Homo sapiens: one gene and its partners. The protein of the gene in region 6 interacts with the protein of the main gene of each other region in a pairwise test. Each region holds a gene or a part of one and is shown on either strand. Other genes may lie near its edges.

Region 1 (3,500 bases), on a different chromosome or scaffold from region 6:
AAGATCCTAGAATCTGTAGTTTTAAAAGTTTCCCTAGTGAGTTTGATGGTAACTAGTGCTGATCCATGAACAAGCATTTGAGTAACACAGTGATAAAAGATTTCCACATGGGAAGAGTTTAAGCTTTTTAATTTTTTTAGATGGAGTCTTGCTTTGTCACCCAGGCTGGAGTGCAGTGGCGCCATCTCGACTCACTGCAACCTCTGCCTCCTGGGTTCAAGCAGTTTTCCTGCCTCAGCCTCTTGAGTAGCTGGGATTATAGGCAGGTGCCACCACACCTGGCTGATTTTTATATTTTTGTAGAGACGGGGTTTCACCATGTTGGCCAGGCTGGAAGCATATTTTATTTACCAGTCATGACTACCTTTTTGCCCTGCCTGAAATTTGATAACTCTTTTTAATTCTTATTCCTTCGCCATATCTTTCCTTAATTATTCCAAATATTCCTTTCTAAAGATCCACCTATCCTGTTTCATATGCTAATTCTTCAGACGCTGAACACAAGCAAGGATCATTATCTTCTAAGGCTTACTCTTTCCCTTCTAGGTTTATTCTTGTTTCTCGAAAGTAGGTGAAATAGGGGGTGGCATCCCATCTATAGGTTAACTTCTAGTAATGAAAGAGAAGGCCAGCTTCTGTTGAAAGAAAATGAGGACCAGGCACAGCCTTGATTGCTGTATGTCTCTCACAACCTATTCTCTGTGCAGCTGAGCCACTAATGGGCAGTAGTTTGCTTGAAGAGGCTTCAGTACCCAGTAAAAACCTGGTGTCTATGAATTCCCAGCCCAGCCTTGGTGGAGAGTCCTTGAACCTACCAAATACCAATTCTATCCTGGGAGTTGATGATGGTAAGACTTCCAACTCTCCTTTATTTGGGAAAAATGGGCTGCAACTAGGGGCTAAGGAATGGGGTGTCTCCACAATGTATGTTTAAATCTCATTTCTTATGAGTAGCTGTGGTATGAGTAGCATTTGTGTTCTTATTCTCTGGGGTGGATTAGTCAATCTGTTTAAAAAAAAATTTTTTTTCATTGAAGATAATATAATAAAAGAATAAAAAGAAAAAATTCTTAAGAAAAAATTATTCCTAATCCTAGCATCCTAGCCCAACTATTTCTATCTTTCCTATTGCAGTTATGGAAGAACTTAACTTTTAGAACATTTAAACAGAACATAACCAGGTTTTACAGAGGAGATATAAAGCAATTTCTCCATACCTTCAAAAGCCATATCTTCTGGAGAAAAGAAAGGGCTCTCTAGGAAACACTTGCTCCTCTCTGGTATAGAAATTTCACCCAAGTTACACAGGCCAGGCCCTCTTCTCTGAAAAACTTAACAGGTGAGGTCAGCATGCATTTATTCAGTGCCTACTGTGTGCCTGGCACCATGGGAAAGACAAAAGTAGAAGATAGGGACCTTAAAATCCAGTTGAGAAGTGAAAGCTTACATATATATGGGAAAGAACATTGAGTACATAAAAGATAGTATATAAGCCAACATTAAATTATATGGTACAGCATAAAATAGTTGTATAATCTAGAAAACCCCTAGAAGAAACTTCTAGTTTTTTGAGGGCTAAGTGGTATATCCATAAACTATTTCCAGAAGATTTTCATGGTGATCCCACTGATGAACATTTAGTAACTGTGAGACCCTATGTTTTTGTTACTCATATCATATTCAGTTAGTAAGTGCTATTAGTATCATTGGCGACTGCTTTTAAGGGTGGCTTTGGTTCCCTTACCTGCTTGCCTAAGACTTTTGCCTGTTTCATACATAGTTTTAATTCAGTTAAAAGTGCTAACACCATATTATTCTAAATCCTGTATTAAGATTTCTTGCCTTTCTATTCTCTTTTTATATTACTTTCCAAATTCACTGATAATGCTTATCAGACAGGATTAACTTGGAAGAAATAGAGGAATGTGGGAAATAGAGGAATAGAGTTTTAGAGTTGTTAATGAGAGGCTTAATGATCCAGATAGGTGTATCTCTGGATTCACTTTTCATTGAAACATTTTTCTGTTGCTTCACAGAGGTGCTTGCTGAAGGATCCCCACGTTCCCTGTCTTCAGTGCCTGATGTGACACATCACCTGGTGACCATGCAGTCAGGGAGGCAATCATATGAAGTTTCTGTCTTAACTGCAGTAAATCCACAAGAGGTAAAGTGGTCTCTTGCCCTTTGTTTCTGTGACAATTCATGTGGGGAATGATTGAGAATTTAGAGGACCTGAAAAAGTCTCCAGTTTCCATTTCCTGGAAACTTTGGCACGAATATTTTCCTTTAAATTAAGCATGAGTTCAGCTTGAAAGGAGCCTGAGGGTTAGGGTCTTAATGAATTGGAGATTGGTCTGTCACAGCTGGGACTCCCGGCTTTAAAGTTCTTTTATATACATTCCTTGTTGATGTCTGTTCCCACTATTCTCTGCCACACTATAACATGATACAGCTTTTATTTTATAAAAGCACACAGCAGGCACTGAATAAATGCATGTTGACCTCACCTGTTAAGTTATTCAGAGAAGAGGGCCTGGCCTGTGTAAATTGGGTGAAATTTCTGTACCAGACAGGAGCAAGTATTTCCTAGAGATCCCTTTCTTTTCTCCAGAAATAACATCCTGGAAAAAGTCCCTCAGCAAAAAAGGTAGTAACAAAATCATTAAACATAATTATTGTTCATTCTGCTATGGTCATATGTCTGGGAGATACCAGGCTTAACCAAATGGGCATATACAGATTTGTTCACTTGCTTGCTAAGTGAGAACCATTACCTAAATCAATGGTCTCCAGCCTTTTTGGCACCAGGGACCGGTTTCGTTTCACCTCAGGTCATCAGGCATTAGATTCTGATAAGGAGTGCGCAACCTAGATCCCTCAAATACACAGTTCACAATAGGGTTTGCGCTCCTATGAGAATCTGTTGCTGCTGCTGATCTGACAGGAGAGGTGGAGCTCAGGTGGTAATGCTTGCTCACCTGCTGCTCACCTCCTGCTGTGTGGCCTGGTTCCTAACAGGGCACGGACCAGTGCTGGTCCATGGCCTGGGGGTTGGTGACTTCTGATCTAAACAAAAAGGGTTTGAGGTTGAGCTAAAGCACTTTCAACTCTGTAGTTTGGCTTTGACTCAGGAAACAGAATGCAAAGTGGTCAGTGTTTTAAAATCTTGGGATATTTCACTGGTCTTGTGTCATGGGAGTGGATGACTTCATCACGAGCACATTTCATATGCATAAACTTTTGTCAAAACCTCTGTAGCTTGGATCCTTTCAGTATTACATTAGTTTTTATGGTGCTCTTCCGTCTTTTCTCCTCTTTTCTTTTCTTTTTTTTTTTGAGACAGAGTCTCGCTCCGTTGCCCAGGCTGGAGTGCAGTGGTGCGTTCTCGGCTCACTGCAACCTCTGCCTCCCAGGTTCAAGCGATTCTCCTGCCTCAGCCTCCTGAGTAGCTGCTACTACAGGTGCGTGCCACCACGCCCAGCTAATTTTTTTGTATTTTT
Region 2 (2,363 bases), on a different chromosome or scaffold from region 6:
GATCATGCCGGTGGCCGTTGATCTGATCAGAAGTTCTCAACCTGGAGGACCTAGCTGCATGTGTGCCAATCAGATATGAGCTGTGTCATGATCATTGTTGATTACTGATAATTGTTAAATACTGAAGTATGGGTTACAGCCTTTATTTTGTAAGTCAGAGTGGAAGGCAGGGTATCCCTATAATAACATCATTATGATTTCTGAATGATCCCAATATGATTTCTGAAAGAGAGAAACAGAGGTGGGGTTACCGCTGGCATGGATTGCTTATGAGGGACCCACATTGTGTCAGGCCCTGGGCACATGATATGAAATAGGTAAAGTCTCTGCTCTCTTGGCACTTATTTTAGTGAGAAGCTAGTGAGACAACCCAGCCCAACTTGCCCATGGAGACTCAGTGAGCAAGAGACAGAGTTAGCTGCTGAGGCACTACAAATGAATGCCGTGGTCTATTTCCATTGCTTCTTCCCTCCTCTGCTCCCGCTTTTTGTTTCATCAATTCATAGAAGGGTACCATGAATGTGAATCTCTTCTATAATATGCATCTGCCCAGCTGAAAAGTGATTGAGAATCCCAGGATTAGATTAAATCTAGCCATTTGCTCTATTGTAATTTGTATTGAGTTCTGTTCCCATTCATTCAAAGTATCTGAGCAGATGGGTGAAGAAATTACAGTAGGATTCCAGCAGTGTGAGTAAATGATTCCATCTGGAGAGGTCAGGGAAGTCTTCACAGAGGAGATGGCTTTTGAACTCTATTTTGAAGTATGGATAGGAGTGTGCCAGGGAGAAAAGGAGAGGCGTGTGCATTTCTGCTCTTAGACGGTGAGGCTCACGTCTTAACCCTTCCTTCCCTGAGGGTCTAGCAAAGCCCTAGGCACTCAGTGATGTCTCAATGCTTATTTCTGAGTCAGGGATGGAGTGAAGGGCCTGATTTAGCTTAGTGCTGGAAGGGGAGGAGGGACTCTGGGATTGTCCAGCCCCAAAGACCTTATGCTGGACTTGCCTCTAAGTTCTCTGATGTTGTAGATTTTCCTGAGGGACATGTCTGGTCCTCTAAGGCAGGTAGAGTGGTCACAGGAATACAGGTAAGATGCTTAGGTCCAGAGAGGGTCCCTGTTCTATGGGTCTTGGGCAGGGAGAGAGTGTAGGCTCCATTGAAACAATCTTTACAGGCTCCCAGGGACTTCCTGATCCAAGTAAGCATAAGGAGAAGCGCTTGATTGTCCTCTAATTGTATTATTTTAATATTTTACTTTCCCAGGGCCAAAGCCTTTCTTATGCCAAAGCCTTTACCCTCCAAGCCTGTCATGGTCTTCACTGTTTCTGACAACCATAAAATTAATATATATATTTTTCTAATTCTCTCCGATAACATTAGGAATCTCATCATGGCATCCACCCTCCCTCTCTTCCAGGTTCGGCTCGACATCCGGAGGGCCCTTGATGCACAGCCCCTATTTTTCTTCCAGTGGGAATGGCATAAACTTTTAGATCTCCTCTTCTCCCTTCTCCTCCCTTAGCCCTTGGATCAGGACTAGGGGCTCTGATTTTTGGATTCTGCAAAAGCTTGGTATGAAGTTTGGAAAAGCAAGGTTCTGACCAGGTCACAGACAAAACAGCAAGACCAGATTCATCTATTGGCCAACACTGACACAAAAATAGCCCTCCTCACACATGGCACAAGCTACACACACACACACACACATGACCCTCATATTCATACTTGCTTGCTCAACCACTTATGCATCTATATTTAGCTAACATGAGTGATTTTTGTTTTTGTTTTTGTTGGTAAAATAGAAGTAAGACACTTAATTTTAGAAAGTTTGTATTTTATGATAAAAGTATGAGCTACTTGAAATGGAGTGTGCCTGTTTATTTTTGTGGTGTTCTGTGTAATCTTTACCTCTCATTTTCCCCACGAGACTCAGCGTTTACTCAGGGCATGAAAGGAGACCACAGGCTGGAGTCCTCAGAGTGCTGCTATCTAAATATTGGACCTCAGGGATCATAAGTGAGAGGGCTTATCTCTTTTCCCCTGTGATCCACTCACCTCTCAACATCCCAGTGTATGCATCTCAGGAAGGGACATCATAAACGGAATGCACTCTGTCCTATCCCGAGTGGAAGTTTTCCATAAAAAGTCTCTTTTGGACAAACGATTGGGAAATGTAGCCTGGAAAACAATTTCAAAATTGATGCTAAATGTGGCAGACTATATCCAATGATTGTACATCAGTACCAAGATAGAGGTCAATGTCAAAACTGCACCTAATGGTGGCATCCTTAGACCTGTCTTGTTCAACTCTTACCAATGACTCGAATAAGGACATTGAGAGCAACTTGATCACATTGATGGAG
Region 3 (4,074 bases), on a different chromosome or scaffold from region 6:
GAAGCAATTTATTTTCCCAAAAGAGAAGTGCCAAGGGAGCCTGAAGTGCCATGGTGGAGAAGAAGGAACCCTATAGTCGAGCCTCTGGACACCCTGGTCTAGGTGGCCACTCAGGATCAGTGCAGGGGGCCTGCACACCACTAGGGGCAACAGTACCTTGGACAGGCTGTTCGTCTCACCTGGGGTTCTAGTTTGTTAACAAGCAAAAGGGGCTCACTGCCCAATGTGCTAGAAGCCAACACTGACACCAAATTTTTGAAAAAAAGAAAAGCTTTATATTAAAAGTCACCTCTGAAGGAGACAGGAGTCAAGCTCAAATTTGTCTCTTTCTGCTGGCATTAAGGCAGTACTTTTATTAGAAAAGGTTCAGGGGGTGGATTCTGAGATTAGTAGGTGATTTGTGCAAGGAAAAGGGAGGTCTGGAAAGTCCTTGGGCATGCATAGTTATTTCTTCATGTTAACTCCTGAGTTGCATGGCAAATTCAGGGAGAGTTAGTATGAAACGTGGTGGAAATTCAGGCTATGACATCAGCAAGCTTATTCTGTGCAAGCTCCAGTTAGCCATCTTGGTTCCAACCAGTTTCAGCCAGGTTTTTCTTGATCTCACAAGTGGAGGGAGTTTCAGCGGCTTAAGTTTCTTTTCTTATCTGCTATCTTGAAACTCAAAAATTAAGTAACTGGTTTCTTACTCTTTGGGACTTTCCAGACCTCCCATTTCCATCCACCAATCACCTACTAATCTCAGAATCCACCCCCTGAATCTTTTCTAATAAAAATACTACCTTAATGTCAGCACAGAGAGACAGATTTGAGCTTGACTCTTGTCTCCTTGGGAGTTGACTTTCAATATACAAGTTTTTCTTTTTTAAAGAACTTAGTGTTTTAGTATTGGCTTCTATTGCATTGGGTAGTGAGCCGCTTCAGCTCTGTAACACTAACTCTGGTAGATAGCATCAGGATGAAATTGAATTGTAGGGCACACAGTTGGTGTCAGAGAATTAAGGAATTGAGTAGTGTCAGAAAACACCTCAGACTACACTTTCTCCCTTGGTATGGGAAGAGTTCAGTTTGTGTTTCTTTCTTCTTGAGTGACCCAACTCCAAGAAGATGCCACTTCTGGAGAGAGAATAGGGATCTCAACTTAGCCTGGCAGTGAGAATACGAATGGCAGCTGGAATGACCCAACAGGGGGCTAATGTTTGGGCTATTGTGTGTGTCACACTGACCCTGACCAGCCAAGTAGTCACAGCACCCACAAGCTCTTCCTGCCTGTCAGATGCCTCATTCCCACCTGTGATGCTCAGAGAGAAACCATGAGCCCTGAAAAACACCATATTGTTTTGTGATGTCACCTCTGGAATGTTCTGAGTGTTTTGGTGACCAACTTCTGCATAGGACCTATACCTGGCAACTCACATTGGTATGGCTTTTTACTTGAGATAGAAATAATCATCTTAGACAGGGAAGCAGGTACAGCTATCTCCACTTCAAAAACTTTCAAAAGCCTTTTACATCAACTATAATATCTAGCTTAATATCTGTTCAGAGATTGATAAACCATCATGCCAGATATCATCTACACGTTCTTTCAGACTCAGACTTTCATAATTGTACATAATTGACAAGAGAGAAATAAATGAGTAGAAAGTTCTGTGTTTTTTAGGCGAGCAATTGAGGCCCAGAGGATGAGCTGGGAAGCAGTAATCTTCTTCTTTTCTCGTTTCCACAGCACTCAAGGCCAAATTATACAAGAAAAAGAGATACCAGATCTGAAAGCCTAGAAATTCCAATCAGTGTGGTTCTACCTCAGGTAGGGATAATCACAGAAGGATGTAACCTATCAGTGTTAGCCAGAATAACCCCCCATCTCCTCCTTCAAAACTCTAGCAAGATGTTGTAGAATAAGCAGAGATAGTCAGGGCTTCAGATTATAGTTTGGGTTGGGTGCCAGCAGGCGGTGTGCTGGGGAAGGCCACATAGCCCCTCTGGGCCTTGGGTTCTTTTTCCCATGAATGAGGTGGCTGGGTCAGATGATCTGGTAAGAACTTCCAGTCCTAACATTCCAAGTTTCTATGATACACTGAAGTAACCCAGCCTTCTCAAAACGAGATCTTTTGGTGCTTAGTGTTGTGCAATCACTCTGGATTTCTGGGGGAGAATTAGAACTGGGACTTGAAATCAAATGCATAAGAATGAATCCATGAGAAGAAAACCTCATCCGTGGACAAAGGGGTACAGAGTTATTTGGAGCTGTCAAGAGAATTAAGCCCTGCTATGCATCAAAGACAGATGTAGGGGCCATGGGCATAGATGCTTTTTCAGTCAATGAATTGGTGAAGTCCTCACAGGCTATAGAGTCTCAGGTCTCCTCCTGCCTGCAATCAGCTGTTTCCTTAGTGGAGTCCTCTTGATTGAATTGTTTCTACTGCTGCTATGTCACAAAGGGGTGGCTTTGCTTTCTCCAGAGTCACCTAAGTCCTCATTGGAAGACCAGGGCCATGCAACCAGAGGGGTTGAAATGTAGGATGGAGGAATCCAATGCAGAGGTAACTATCTGAGAGCTCTGTCCAGGGATGTGTAGGAGGAGGATTGACCACTGGTGGGCATTCCATATATATAATTGTAACAATCTAGGCAAGTATGTTCAGCGGGAGGCAAAAATATGGAAGAAGAAAACATCCTGGATGTTTATTTTCACATTATCTTTATAACTTTGTAATGAACAGTCACTTTTCTGTTACTTTTAGCCCATGAATCTTAGCCAGAATATAAGATAACTTCCCCCTGATCATTCAACAAGATAACAAGCTGTAGGAATCTTTTTGGGCCTGATTCTTTCCACCTGAAATACGCAGGGAGTTGTGTTAGCCACTACTCCCCCAAGAGTGGGTGTTACTGCTGTGATTCCTCATAGCCCATATAAACCAATCTTTTCTTCCAGAATCCTGGGGCCCCTCAACTTTACATGCTTTGAAAGTACCTCAGATGGCTGAATGTTCTCTGATAGTAACCCTCGGTAATGTTAGCAAAGTTGGTGTTTAAGAAACTTGGTCAGGCAGAGGATGCCAACCTAGGGGTGGGTGTGAAGGAGGGGGTAGGATTTGAAAGAGTAGTGGTCATGTGATAGAGAAATTGGAATGATGTTTCCATCAACACCCACCGCAACTTTCCCTCCCCAGCTCCCAGAAACAGCCCAACGATCAAGGAGAAGAGAAGGTGGTTTAAGACAGCTCAAGCTTGTCTTGGGGCTGCCTGCTTCCTGTGCTGGAGGACCTGGTGCTGCTGCTGGGGTCTTGTGGGGCAGAGTGGGTGAAGAATGAGAGGATATCTCCTGTCTGGGCACGTGTACCTCACAAGGGCAGATGCAGCTTCGTGCGTACACCTGCCAAGAGGGCACAAGCCATGCACCAGGTTTTGGACACCTGTCAGGATGCTCAAGACTGGCACTCTGGGGGATGGGTGTGGGTGTCTACAACTAGATGATCCGAACCAAAATACCACCAGGCCTGCGAGAGGGACCAGTGTGCTCACTCTACCTCCCTAAATGAGATGGCACATGGCTTAGGGGACAGGGTTGATCTGGGAAGCAAGGAGAGGAAGAAATATTGACTGAATGTTGGTGCGATCATGTGTCGGGCATGGGGCCAAGCAAGTGTGAGGTAGAGATTTTACAGGTACAGGAACCGGCAACCCCAGGAACCCCACTAGTAATGGCAGAGCTCGAGGAAGGGGCTTGAACTCAAATCAGTGCCCATGTTCTCCGCTATACTAGGGCACATGCCAGTAAGCTGGGCCATGCTGCATCTTAGCTCCATGGTTCTTCTCTTGCTTTTTGGAGATGGAGTCTTCTCCCTGCATCTTAACCACTCATCTCTGGGCTTCTTATTTTGTATTTGCCAAAAGCTGCTCTATTCTGGGATGGAGTCCACTTTCCATTTGTTTCAGAAAGGACTTGTGGCAGCAGCTCTGTCTCCAGAGACTGCCTCTGGCTCCCAGCTGCCAGTCCTGCTGTGCGTTTGGGCTTCTCAATTACATTGGAAATGCCTGTGATCACTACATGTTATCACCCTAAGG
Region 4 (3,500 bases), on a different chromosome or scaffold from region 6:
AGCAGACAAGGGAGAAGGGGAGGGCAAGAGAGAAGAGGAGGCGGAGAAATAAGCAGGTGGAGAAGAAAGCGGAAAGGGGACAGGAAGGTAGAGGAGGAGGAGATGAAGGTGGAGGAGGGCAAGAGGATAGCAGAGGGGAAAGGAAAGGAGAAAGAGAAAGGGAGAAAAGGAGGAGATAAGTGAAAAGGAAAAAAAAAACACTTTTGCTAAACCCAACAGGAAGCCAGAGGGCAAAAGAATCCACTGAAACATTTCATGGAGGTCAGCCTACTGGAGAAGAGGGGAGAGTAGAGGAGGGGGGACTGGAGGAACAGATGATACCTGGCACACTCATCTATCCATTTGTGCCTAAGGTTATCCTGAAATTTTTTAAATTCTAAAATAAACTACTTGAAACACAGTGAGATAAGACTTATGTAATATGGAATTTGATGAATGCTTGATTTGTTGAAATCTTCATGATCAAACACTGCAGTCATATCCTCTTCCAGGCTTCATATTTCTCAGCTGAGTCTTACCATCTTTATTCTACCTTAATATGAGACTATCTTCTTGGTAATTTTAATTAAAAGTATTAGAGGAAAACAACACTTTGACAATTTTTCATCTTGTCTATGATTATAAAATGGTTTTATATGACTAAAATTGTTCTACAGGAGCTGAAAGTTTACCAAGCTTAGATTCATATGGAGTCATATAAGGATTATAAGAGCACTCAAGGCTTGTTATAACATTTAAACATCTTACATGTGTATCAAAAACTTAAGCACTCAAGCTTAAACATAATCCACTATCAACTGAGAAGCCTCTGTAACCATGATAAAAATGAAAACATATAAACTATGATTTAAAAGGCATATTTAGTTATTTGAACCACTGAATACAATTAGCATTTCAGTAATTAATCTATAGCAAACTAATACAAACCTACGATCAAGTTAAAAACATCTGGATTAACATCATTATGAATTTTATATAGTTAGATCTAGTCTAAAACCTCACATGGGCTGGGCATGGTGGCTCAGGCCTTTAATCACAGTACTATGGGAGGTGGAGGCGGGTGGATCATTTCAGATCAGGAGTTCAAGACCAGCCTGACCAACACGGTGAAACTTTGTCTCCATTAAAAATACAAAAAATTAGCTGGGTGTGGTGGCTCACACTTGTAATCCCAGCTCCTCAGGAGGCTACGGCAGGAGAATCACTTGAATCCAGGCAGCGGAGATTGCAGTGGGCCGAGATTGCCACTGTATTCCAGCCTGGGTGACAGAGTGAGACTCTGTCTCAAAAAAAAAAAAAAAAAAAAAAAAAAAAGACACTATTCACACTATTAATGAGTCGATTTACCATTTGGGGTTTTAAAAATATATATACCTAATTATCATAAACCTAGCGATAAAACCTGAAACTAAAAACTTCTAGAAGAAAACACAGAACAAAATCTTTATGACTTCAGGTAAAGAGTTCTTAGATATGCCATCAAAGCACGATTCATTTAAAAAAATTTTGAAAAATAACACTTAATAAAAATGAAGAATTTCTGCTATTTGAAATACAACATCAAAAAAATAAATGAACAGGCTGGACCCAGTGGCTCACGCCTGTAATCCCAGCACTTTGGGAGGCTGAGGCGGGCGGATCACCTGAGGTCAGGAGTTCAAGACCAACCTGGCCAACGTGGTGAAACCCCGTCTCTACTAAAAATACAAAAATTAGCTGGGCATGGTGGTGGGTGCCTGTAATCCCAGCTATTTGGGAGGCTGGGCAGGAGAATCGCTTGAACCCGCGAGGCGGAGATTGCAGTGAGCTGAGATCCTGCCATTGCACTCCAGCCTGGACACCAAGAGTGAAACTCTGTCCGCCCGCCCCTCCTCCCCCCGCCAAAAAAATAGAAAATAAGCAAACGAATCACAAAATGGAAGAAAATATTTGTAACTCATAATCTATAAAGGACATATATTTAGAATATAAAAGAACTCAATGATAAGGAAAAAAACCCTATTAAAAAGGTGAGAAGGAACAAAACATTTGAACAGATACTTCACCAAAGAGGATATACACATGGCAAATAAGCACATGAAAAAAATGTTCAATATCATTAGTCATTAAGAAAATGCAAATCCAAACCACACATGTAATGAGAAACCATTACACATGTATTGGAATGGCTAAAGCTAAAAAAGGCAACACCAAGGGCTGACAAGGATGCAACTGGAAACTCACACATTGCTGCTGGGAGTGTAAAATTATACAGCCATTTTGGAAAACAACTTGGCAGTTTCTTATGACGTTAAAAATTTACTTACAATATAACCCAGCAATTCTATTCCCTAGGTATTTACCTGATATAAAAACCCATGTGCACAAAAAAAACCCTGTATGTACATGTTTATAGCAACTTTATTCATAAGCACTCAAAACTAGAAAAATCTAAATGTCCTCTGAGAAAGGGATAAACAAATTGTGGTACATCCCCATACAATACAACACTACTAAGCAATAAAATGTAATGAAATACTTAAACATGCAACAACATGGGTAATTCTCAAATGCATCTGGCCAAAAAAAACAGATCAAAAAAGCTACATACTATATGCTTTCATTTATGTTATACTTAAAAAGGCACAACTTTAGAGAAAAAAAACACATCAAGGGCTTACCAGGAGCTGGGAGTGGAAGGGAAGGACTGACTATAAAGGGGGCATGGAGGAAATTTTTGCGATGATAGGACTGTTCTGTAACTTGATTGTGGTGGCAATTACATGTCAGTACACCTTTGCCAAAACTCACAAACATATATGGTATAAAGGGTGAATTTTACTGTACATAAGTTATACCTTGGTAAAAAGAAAAACAATTGCTTGGTAACTCAGGTACTGTATAAAACAGACTATCCTGATATAAATTATTAATAAGACATTTACCTTGCTTTTTGTTTTAAAAACCACAGTTAATTATCCCCTCACATAACAAATGTTTATTTAGTGAACACTGAGCCAGGCACCTGTTATTCAATTAATATTTAATTACTAAAACATAGACTCTCAGTTGGGGGTGATTTGTCCTTTCTGATGCATTCTTTATCAAAGCAGGAGCATAACGAGATTCCTATATTTAACTAGTTAGTTTGGCCTAACAGTTGTATCTGGATCAAAAAACACCCCATGTTTACATTTATCTACTGCAGAAAGCTTTTCTTTAAAAGTCATATAGAAGGAATCCCACAAGACATCACCCAAAATCCATTTTGGCTAAAAGTGTCTTTTAAAACATGTAAAGATCTTATATATGTTTAACATGTATAACAGCAAAGCTGAATATAAATGCCATGAAGTTCTTCACTGGCAAGTGGAACACTACGGTGATTGATATGCTTTGAATCTGTGTCCCTGCCCAAATCTCATGTTGAATTGTAATCCCCAATGTTGGAGGTGGGGCCTAGGGGGAGGTGACTGGATCACAAGGGCGGTTTCTCATGGTTTAACACCATCCCCCTTGGA
Region 5 (3,500 bases), on a different chromosome or scaffold from region 6:
CTGCCTCGTCCTCCCAAAGTGCTGGGATTGCAGCTGTGAGCCACTGCGCCCGGCTGGATTGTCATCTCAGTAGTGGCCCAAATGACATTTGGGTCAGCAGTGCCTTCTGTTTCTCCTTACAGAGGGCCAAGATGGGTCGCCGAGCTCAACAGGAGTCAGCGCAGGCCGAGAATCACCTCAATGGCAAGAATTCCTCTTTGACTCTGACTGGAGAGGTGGGTGCTAAAAAAAAAGAAAATCTGAAGAAATACTGTTTAAGAGTTAGTGATTCCTTAATGACCAAGGATTTGGTATTCCATATTTCTTCTCTTGAATGCCAACCCTTTCTCCTGTCTTGATTTGGGAATTCCCTTCCTTGGCATTTGTCCTTGTAGCAGGAAATGGAAGAACTTTTTTTCCTTGATGCCAGACTAGTTTCTGTGCATTTCCTTATATTCTTAATGTAGAACTTTTTATGTTAGCTGAAGCAAGGGACTGGGAAGTTTCAAAATCCAGTAGGATTCCAGGTTTTTATTTCCGCTGAATAAATGCCAGTGAGGCAGACTGGTGACGTAAGGTTGGATTACACAATTGGACATTGCTCTCGGTGGTGACCTGCGCTTTCTACAGTCTTCCGGCAGGAAGCAGATCATTTACTGGCCTTACTTTCCTGGAAACTTTTCCGAGTAGCCTGGAATTATGGGAAATGATCCAGCTTCTTTGTGGAGGGTGGGTAATTCTGATGAGCAATACTTTTTACTGCCAGGGCACTACTTTTGGCAGCTTACTCAGAGCCCCTTTTTACCTTCCTCTGTCCATTTGAAAAAACTTTGCAAAAGTCAGCCTCAGGGTCATCCTCTGCCAGAAGTTAGCTCTTCTCTAACCTCTCCAGGCTGACTTAGCAGTCCTTCCTTTCACTTCCCATAGTACCTATTGTGAACATATGCCATTATATGTGAATTGTCTTTTTACATGTCTGTCTCCCCCACCGGACAGTGAGTTCCCAGACAGCAGGAAACCTGGCTTCTAGCTTGCTGGCCCATAGTAGGTTTGCAACAGATGAAGAGACCCATGCTGAGAAGCCTAATGGGTCAGGCAGGTGCATGAGCAAATGAACCGGGTACCTGACATGGACACACTTCACTTACATATCACATAGGTAGGAATATTCTTCATTTTCGTAGGAAATGCATTCTCCACCACTTTCTTAAGCTCTCCACATGGCCTTGTCCATTTATCTTTCATTTTCTCCTTTTAGAAGTGTGGGTATGGAGAATCATTACTTTAAGATAACATCTGTGCTGGCCTAGAAAAACTAGCAGCTGACCCCTTGGCATCACTGCCTGGAAGAAACTAGGGGAGTGAGTTAGGGCAGGGGGACTGGGAACTGGAGGCCACATGCCCCCTCTAAAGGGACAACCACTACTTAGCCAAAGCTGGTTGGTGCTGTCGAGAATACAGGCCCAGTATTGCCAGATATGATTCTTCAAGAGATGCTGGCAGTCTAAAATTTTATGTGAAAGCAACACATTTTTAGAGGTTAGCACCTGATTAAGAAAACCTAATCACCATATGGACTGGATATTAAATCATCATATGGGCTGGATTTGGTCCAAGGATTGTCAGTTTGTAACTGCGGCCATGGCACCTCCATTGTGATACTTATTACATTGTATTCTAATTGTTTACATATCTGGTTCTCTCATAAGATATGAGCATCTGGAAGGCAGAGGTTGTGTCTTATCATCGTACCCTATTATCTGTCACAGTGCCTGGCAGAATAGGCCTGCAATTGTTATTGCGCAGGATGAGGTGGGGTCAAGTACATAGTGTGTGATGTACTTACACATTAGAAGCTATGTAGAAGTGTTATGGGGCCTGGGGCAGGGAGGTTGGGAGGCGAGGATAGTGGAGCATTGGAGGCACAGTTAGGAGAGGTGATATAAAGTAGGAATTTGGTGAAAGAAGATATACCAGACCCAACCCTGGATCTCAGGGAGCTTGAACTGCAGTGGTGTATGTATTTAAAGAGAAAACGCGGAAGCAAATGACTGAGCTGATGGAAGCCAATTCTTGGCCTCTGGCACTTTACACTGTTCCACATGGGTCCAGGAGGATTAATTCCAACACCAGATCATTCATTCATTTACTCAACAACTATTTATTGAAGCACACAGTAAGTGCCAGGCACCATTTTGCAGGGTTGGCATATTTCAGTGAACAAAAGAGACAAGATCTCTTGCCATAATGGAAGTTACATTCTCGTGATCACTGGCACCCAGGAAGAATAATTAAAAGTCTACTTAAGGCTAGGCACAGTGGCTGATGCTTGTAACCCCTGTAACCCCAGCACTTTGGGAAGCCAAGGCAGGAGGATTGTTTGAACGTAGGAGTTCACGACCAGCCTGGGCAACCTTGTCTTTGCAAAATATTTAAAAATTAGCTGGGTTTGGGTGGCATGTGCCTATAGTCCCAGCTACTTGGGAGGCTGAGGCAGGAAAATTGCTTGAACCCGGGAGGCGGAGGTTGCAGTGAGCTGAGATCTTGCCATTGCACTCCAGCCTGGGCAACAAGAGTGATATATACATAAATATATAATTAACAATAAGAGTATATATTATATATATATATATAAATATTAACAAGAGTGTGTGTGTGTGTGTGTGTGTGTGTGTGTGTGTGTGTATGTATGTATATATATTTTAAAGTCTACTTAATTGTGAAGGAGGTTATAGCCACCTATGGTAGTTAGGTGAATGAGCCTGTGATGACCTCATTAGGCCTTGAAGCCTTATATGACCCCCATACCAAATCAGCTCCTAGGCTGGGGTCAGTGGGCCCTGCTTGCCTACCATCCACTTCCCTTGGCTCCCATGTGAGAATCATTGCTGTGAGAATATAACTCCATAGTCACAGAGTGTGATGAATCCTTTCAGGGTTTCAGCCATTCAGTAATACCTACTTATTTCGAGGTTTACCTTTTTTTAACTCTGTGCATTACCATTTTTGTGGGAGAACATGATGAAAAGTCATTCTGCTCTTCACCCAACTGTTGCCTCTGAAAGCAAGATGCCAGTTAGGATTCCAGGATCCCTTTCTCCCTGGGCTAATTGAGGTTTAAACAGTGTGGGCAGCCTCCCACGGGGCCAGATGCTCACTGTGCTGTGTGGGACTTTTTGGCTGTTTCTTTCTAAAATTAGATCCCAAGACTTGTGTGTGTGCCCATTTACATTCCGATTCTATTACTTGATATATTTATTTTTGTCCTCTTGCTGACTGTATTCTAGGATGAAGATATCCATGCAAACGTAAATATGGTACCTGGGAGCTGTCAGACATGCTGGAGTTACTTTAGACTTAAGTGGAAATTAGTTCAAACACATGGTTATTTTAAAGCGAGGTAGTGGAGTTGGGAGCTCTGGTGAAGGAAGCAGAAAGAACACAGGGCTTCGCACCAGAGGACTGGGTGCTAATTGCCTGGATTGTGATTAAGTCCACCAATCTCTCTAATTCTCCATTTC
Region 6 (3,500 bases):
TATTAAAGATCCATTTTCTCAGTTACAAAGATCCAAGACTCCTCGAGGGTATTCTACCCTAACGGAAATAGGACAGGCTTTGTAGTCAGACTTGAACCCTGGCTTTGGCGACTACTAGCTGTCCTGCCTGGAGAAGTTGCGTACCCTTCCTGAGCCTCAGTTTTCCCTTTCATTGAATCAGGATGATAATACACACTTCATTCATCCACTCAGCAAGTGTTTACTGGGCGCCTCATACACAGCAGGAACTGTTCTAGGCACTGCGGATACGTAGACGTCAACAAAACAAACATTGCTCTTGCCTGAAAGGGGCTTACAAACTTGAGAGGGGGAGACAGACACCAATCAAATAAGCAAGTACACATATAGTATGCCAGATGGCAATATGTGCTAGGGAGAAAAATAACACAGAGTGAGGGAAAATGGAATGCGCTGGCCCGGGTTATTAGTGTCTTACTCAGGTGATGAAGGAAGACCTTTCTAATAAGAAGAACTCACATCTGGGGAAGAATGTTCCCGGAAGAAGGAGAAGAGCAAAGGCCCTAAAGCAAGAGTTTGAAGAATGACAAGGGGTCCTGTGTGGATGAAGCAGAGGGAGGGAAGGAGGAAGGGAGTGTAAGAGAAGGGGACACAGAGATGGCTAGAGCCAGATATGCAGGGCCTTATAGGACTTTGGCTTTTTACTCTGGGCAAGAAGGAAACCTTGGGAGAGCTTCAAGCAGAGGAGCGAAATGATCTGATGCAGGTTATGAAAGGATCCCCCTGGCAGTGGCACAGAGTATGGCCCCTGACCTGTGTGGATGGGGCAGAAGCATAAGGCTGGCCATTTGCATCCCACAAATGACCTCAGTGTGAGGGATGAGCGAGATCATATACGAATGCGCTTGCGTGAGTATGCATAGAGCAAGTGCTCAAGCCATGGCAGCTTCTATCAATGGCCCTGCAGCTGCCTGGCTATAGCTCCCTGGTCTCCTGCAGACAAGTCTTGGCCAGTCACGTGAGTGCCTCTGTCATTGCCCACTCAGTCATTCCCCCTGCCCCCACCTCCTTTCTTCAACCCTTCACTGGTGGTTAAGCTCCTAGCACAGCAGCCTCACCTCCAGCCTCTCCCCACCCCAACCCAACCCAAATGCAACTCCACTCACATCCTTCCCCTGTTCAAGAGTCTTCCATGGACTAGTGGCTCATTAAATCCACATTCTTGGCTAGGTGCAGTGGCTCACACCTGTAATCCCATCACTTTGGGAGGCCAAGGCGGGCAGATGGCTTGAGCCCAGGAGTTTGAGATCAGCCTGAGCAACATGGCAAAACCCCATCTCTACAAAAAGCAAACAAACAAACAAACAAAAAACAAAACAAAAGAACAAAACAAAAATTAGCCAAGCGTGGTGGCACACACAGCTGCTTGGGAGGTTGAGGTGGGAGGATCACCTGAACTCAGAAGGTCAAGGCTGCAGTGAACCACAGTATCACCACTGCACTCCAGCCTGAGCAACAGAGCAAGACCCTGTCTCAAAAAAAAAAAAAAAAAAAAAATCCACATTCCTGGAGACTTGCAGCTAAGGCCTTCCACAATAAGATGCTGCATTTACGTTTCCCACCCATAATCAACTGCTATCCCAAACATATTGAATATCTGTGGAGAAGTATGGGTGGGTGCAATATGTCACTCCTAGCAGAATCACTGAGGAAACTGACCACACTCATGATGGAAAATTGACGGTAATGAGTCCTTCCCTCAGGTTCCCCAACCCCACAATATGCCCTAACCATGGTGGACATGTATTCCTGTCTGTCACTGGCTCACTTCTCCCACCAGGCTACCGCAAACTCCACAATGATGTATATTCTCTTAAAGCTACAAAATGGCTTGTGGTTTCCAAATCAGTTTTCCTTACTGCTCTTATCTCCCTTGATACTTGCCCCTATGGGCCCCTCATCCATAATAAAATGCCCTCATTTTACACTTACTAGTTCTGACAAGAGTCCCAGGTTCCAAGTCATGGATTCCCATGTGGGATTGCTCCTCTGATCCTTCATTCCTATATCTTTTTTCAATCTATCCACAATTCACAAGGCATCGGTGTCAGACCAATGGCAAATAATAAGTGGGACCTGCTGGCTATGGATGGAAGAGCGAAGTCCCTGACAACATGTTTCTACCAGCCTGGAAATGAGGCTCTCCCATCCCCTAACACATCTACCAGTTGTGATGGATTTAAAGGCTGGCTAATGTTAAGCTTGTTCCACAGGGGATAGAATATTGGCCCCTGGACTGACACCTACCACCATGTGGATCTTGGAGCAAGACAAAGGAGCCCCCCAACATTCGTGTTCTGAAATAACAATGCCTGAGGCTGTCTATTCCCCACCACGGATGCCAAAGCACAGACAGCCACTCACAGCTGTGGGATACAGATGCCCCTGTCATTATAAAAGGCCAGCCCTAAATGCTATTACAGAGTCTAAAAACTGAAAATGTTATTGTGAAACCTTTAGGTTTTTTATAGCTGGCTATGCCTGATATAGCTGGTGGCCTGGGACACAGTTTCCCTACTCAGCGCTGGGACACCTCGGCAATACTGCACCCACAGTGTCATCCCTATCTGTTTGGAATGTACAATTCTTCTACAACACCATGGGCCAGGAATATCACATCATCCTGAGAAGCCATCAGGACAAACAAAAAGGAATGTGGTCCTGTATGTTTAGTCCCACCTCCCCTACAAACTACTTTTATCATAGAAATGATGCCCAATTGTCAGCCCAGCGCATGTGGTGTCCTCCAGCACCCCTTCTAAATGTGCCCTCAAGCACCCCTTCTGCTTTGTGCATCTTTGTGACACCCTTCCAGATGTCAGCCTATATCTCCATGACCCAAATCTGACTTAAGAGTTGTGGCCGGGCATGGTGGCTCATGCCTGTAATCCCAGCACTTTGGGAGGCCAAGGCAGGTGGATCACCTGAAGTCAGGAGTTTGAGACGAGCCTGGCCAACATGGTGAAACCCCGTCTCTACTAAAAATACAAAAAAATTAGCCAAGCTTGGTGGTGGGCACCTGCAATCCCAGCTACTTGGGAGGCTGAGGCAGGAGAATTGCTTGAACCTGGGAGGCAGAGGCTGCAATGAGCCAAGATTGTGCCATTGCACTCCAGCCTAGGTGACAAGAGCGAAACTCTGGCTCAAAAAAAAAAAAGGTGTACCAGCCCAGGGAGACAATGGCCACATTGCAGGTGATGACCACAGCCCAGCCAACCACTGCATCCTGGAGGCTGCCCACCAGTTACCCACATCATCTACCAAGGGACCCCCTTGCTGGAGCACAAACAGCTTCCCTTGGGGGATCCCTCAATCAGCATTTGTCACATACCTGAAAAGGGTGGCCACCACACAGGCCACCAAAGTTATAACTCTCTCCTCTCACTTCCTCCCCATTGGGCACAATAAACCTCATTGCCATTGTGGCTGGAACTTCCCTTCCTGGGCCTCCCAAAGCAATT
Region 7 (2,991 bases), on a different chromosome or scaffold from region 6:
TGACACCAACTTAATTTTGCATTATGTTTCAGAGTTGCATTATGGCATGTCATTCCATTATATCATAATGAGGCAAATCAAGGAATTATTCCCTTTTACTAATAAGGCTATAGCATATATTATTTGGCCACATTGAAGAGGATAGGAGATACTTTCTATGGGTTGAAATTAATACTACTTTTAACCCATGATACATTCTATTTCAATAGCATTTGAAGTTAAAAGTAATGCGGTCTTCAACTTCTTGTCCTCTGTGTAAATCTCCAGAGATTACTTAGTATCTGTTTCAGAATCATTACAGAAAAATCAATGCTAAGATTTATGGAAAGCATTTAAATAGCTTGGACTAAAGGTATTAGCCAAATAGTGTTAACTGTGTATTTGCTTCAGGCTTGTTTTCAAGTTAGCTATATGAAGCTCTGGAATCACTTTTTTTCAGTACACAGAGCTCCTCTATGAACAGTTATGAGAAATAAAAACCTGTTGTGAGCATCAAATTTTGTTGCTGTTATTAAATAGCTATTATTATTGATACATATTTTTCTTTAGGTGGGATTTTTCCCTTTAGATATAACTGAGTTTAAAACTTGAAACTGTTAGTATTAATACATAGGTTATATTTTTCATAGGTTGATTTCTATCCAATATGAACTATAAAGAATTTTATCGTTTATTGTTGTAGATTTGTGTGATGAAACATACAATATTTCCAGTATCTTCACAATATTTTTCCAAAGAACTGAGCTATTAAAATTTATACATATAAGGAAACATTCTGTCATTTCTAAAGTGAGATTTCAAACCATAAGCTTGTTAGAAATTAAGTGAGATTATAGTATTCTGGTGATACTTAAATGTTCTTGGGATCTTTACAATCATATGTGGTTTTTTAAGAACTTAAGAATCTTTTGTTACTGCTATTATTAATAGATTGGGAAAATATAATCTGTTGACTAAAAGGCAAAATAAACATTTTTAAGATTTTATGCAGTATCCTATAATGGAAACAAACAAGAAAGGTCTTGTTCTTGTTTGTTGAGGAAAAGATGATGGCTTTGCTTTAAACATACTTGAAAAATCGACTAGAAGAGATCCTGAACAAGAAACTGTAAGACTTCTGGAATGTACCTTGAGTAACAGAGGCAGATAAACTATTTTATTCTGTTACTAGTGAGAAGATTCACTGGTAATTCACAATCACCGCCCCCTCCAACCAAATACCATAAACAAGGCCTCAGAAATGGGAACTTCCATTTCATTTTTGACAGTGATTTCTCTCAACTCTGAAAACAAAACCCCTTTTACAACTCTGAGTTAGTTTTCAAATGTTAGGGTTTCCTGCATGGGTATTTGGGGTAAGTATGAAAATGTTTTGCTGCTTAAATCAAAGAACTCTGGAAACAGATATAAATTGAGAATGGAAAAAGAGTAGTGAATAAGATGGAAATTTCTATTCTAAATTTCACTATATGGGCTACAATTCCCATATAGTTTTCCTTAGTGAACACCACCCCCCAACACACACATACAAACACACCTTCTGATTTAAATAACATTATATCTTCAGAAATGGAAAATGTGTTAAAGTTGTGTTAACAGGCTTCCTTCTTGTCTGTGTCCCATTCTCATCACAGTCTACCAGTTAGGGATGTTTAGAGAAATTTATCTTGTGGCATTGAAGTGGCTTTATGTGCATTATATATTGGGTTTTATGTATATTGCATACTGTGAAGTAATCATGATACATGCTGACAACAAAAGATGTAGATAAGTTAAAATTTTAGTTGATCCATTGTCTGTTTCTTCTTTGCCATCTTTGTAGAAAAAAATTAATTCAAGATGGACAGCCTATAAAAATGTATCTTTTTCTATTATTATTAATTTAGATATTGGCGTGCCACTTTTGAAGAAGGAAAATACTTAGCTACATTAAAAGATTTGCATTGAAGAAGCAATTGTGATATGCTGCCTTTTATCACAGTGTGACTTCCCATCAGTGCTGAGTAATGAAGTTTCTGATTAATATCTATCGTTGCTTTATCAGAATATCTTTCTCTAAAGTAAATCATTCTTGTGAATAAGAATCTAGCTAGTTGTAATGCAGTTCAGCATAGGTGGAAATAATTTTTTAAGGACTAAGTCAATTTCTGGGATTCAGACTGTTTCAGAAAAGAAACATTTTCTGTATTTCCACTAATGGCACAGTGTACCTTAGTATGTTTGGGTTAGTATTCAGTTTTAGCAATAATCATGGAGGCAGGGGTATCTATAAATATTATATCCCAATTTGCAAGGTAGCAAAGTTGTATATATACTACATAATATGACCACTTGACAGTTTATGAAGTCTTTTCATATATGCCATTTAATTGATTCATATAATAATCTTATGTGTAAACATAAAGGTGTACTACTATCTTCATTTCAAGTATCCTTGAAAAGACTTTCTCCATTGAATTGCCTTTGTACCTTTGTCAAAAATCAACTGACCAGCCTTATAGCACGTTAAGAAGTAACTTATATGATGTTATTAACACAAAGGATGGGGGAAGGAATGAAGCTATATTGGAGTAAACAATGACACCAGACAGTTATGTGAAGAAATGAAGAATACCAGGAATATTAAATATGTGAATGTAAAAGACCCTAATATATTTTCCTTTCTCCTCTTAACTTTATAAAAAGAAAATTATTTAAAGTAATAATTACAACACTATATTACTGGGTTTAAATATATAAACATATATGACAATAATAGCATAAAGGTGGAGGAAAGGAATAAAGCTCTATTGGAGCAATTTCTATATTTTTTAGAATCAAGTTAGTATTAAGCTGAGAGAAATTGTGATAAACTAAGACGCAATAGTAATCTCTAGAGTCATCACTACGAAACTCAAGAAACTATAGTAAAAAAAAATACATTAATTAAAATGGTGTACTAGAAAATACCTATTTAATAGAAAAGAAGGTGATAAAGGAGGGTGAGAGGAA

Evidence for each region.
Region 1: the proteins of LMO2 (region 6) and ZNF410 interact in binary tests that used the Homo sapiens proteins (3 or more experiments, as listed by UniProt).
Region 2: the proteins of LMO2 (region 6) and C1orf94 interact in binary tests that used the Homo sapiens proteins (3 or more experiments, as listed by UniProt).
Region 3: the proteins of LMO2 (region 6) and CBY2 interact in binary tests that used the Homo sapiens proteins (3 or more experiments, as listed by UniProt).
Region 4: the proteins of LMO2 (region 6) and ABI2 interact in binary tests that used the Homo sapiens proteins (3 or more experiments, as listed by UniProt).
Region 5: the proteins of LMO2 (region 6) and IFT43 interact in binary tests that used the Homo sapiens proteins (3 or more experiments, as listed by UniProt).
Region 7: the proteins of LMO2 (region 6) and TSEN15 interact in binary tests that used the Homo sapiens proteins (3 or more experiments, as listed by UniProt).

What each region holds. Positions count from the first base shown.
Region 1 is NC_000014.9:73,921,359-73,924,858, forward strand, and holds part of ZNF410 (zinc finger protein 410), read left to right. Parts: intron 1-707; coding exon 708-848; intron 849-1,340; exon of another isoform or gene 1,341-1,378; intron 1,379-2,036; coding exon 2,037-2,164; intron 2,165-3,343; coding exon of another isoform or gene 3,344-3,445; exon of another isoform or gene 3,446-3,461; intron 3,462-3,500. UniProt on the Homo sapiens protein: Transcription factor that binds to the sequence motif 5'-CATCCCATAATA-3', and is specifically required to silence expression of fetal hemoglobin in adult erythroid cells.
Region 2 is NC_000001.11:34,217,269-34,219,631, forward strand, and holds the end of C1orf94 (uncharacterized protein C1orf94), read left to right. Parts: intron 1-1,417; coding exon 1,418-1,493; 3' UTR 1,494-1,863; downstream 1,864-2,363.
Region 3 is NC_000013.11:45,701,046-45,705,119, forward strand, and holds the start of CBY2 (protein chibby homolog 2), read left to right. Parts: upstream 1-1,274; 5' UTR 1,275-1,345; coding exon 1,346-1,420; exon of another isoform or gene 1,421-1,470; intron 1,471-1,729; coding exon 1,730-1,810; intron 1,811-2,465; coding exon of another isoform or gene 2,466-2,546; intron 2,547-4,074.
Region 4 is NC_000002.12:203,397,894-203,401,393, reverse strand, and holds part of ABI2 (abl interactor 2), read right to left. Parts: intron 1-3,500. UniProt on the Homo sapiens protein: Regulator of actin cytoskeleton dynamics underlying cell motility and adhesion. Functions as a component of the WAVE complex, which activates actin nucleating machinery Arp2/3 to drive lamellipodia formation.
Region 5 is NC_000014.9:75,988,763-75,992,262, forward strand, and holds part of IFT43 (intraflagellar transport protein 43 homolog), read left to right. Parts: intron 1-122; coding exon 123-215; intron 216-3,500. UniProt on the Homo sapiens protein: As a component of IFT complex A (IFT-A), a complex required for retrograde ciliary transport and entry into cilia of G protein-coupled receptors (GPCRs), it is involved in ciliogenesis.
Region 6 is NC_000011.10:33,885,577-33,889,076, reverse strand, and holds part of LMO2 (rhombotin-2), read left to right. Parts: intron 1-3,500. UniProt on the Homo sapiens protein: Acts with TAL1/SCL to regulate red blood cell development. Also acts with LDB1 to maintain erythroid precursors in an immature state.
Region 7 is NC_000001.11:184,068,730-184,071,720, forward strand, and holds part of TSEN15 (tRNA-splicing endonuclease subunit Sen15), read left to right. Parts: intron 1-1,886; exon of another isoform or gene 1,887-2,003; intron 2,004-2,991. UniProt on the Homo sapiens protein: Non-catalytic subunit of the tRNA-splicing endonuclease complex, a complex responsible for identification and cleavage of the splice sites in pre-tRNA. It cleaves pre-tRNA at the 5' and 3' splice sites to release the intron.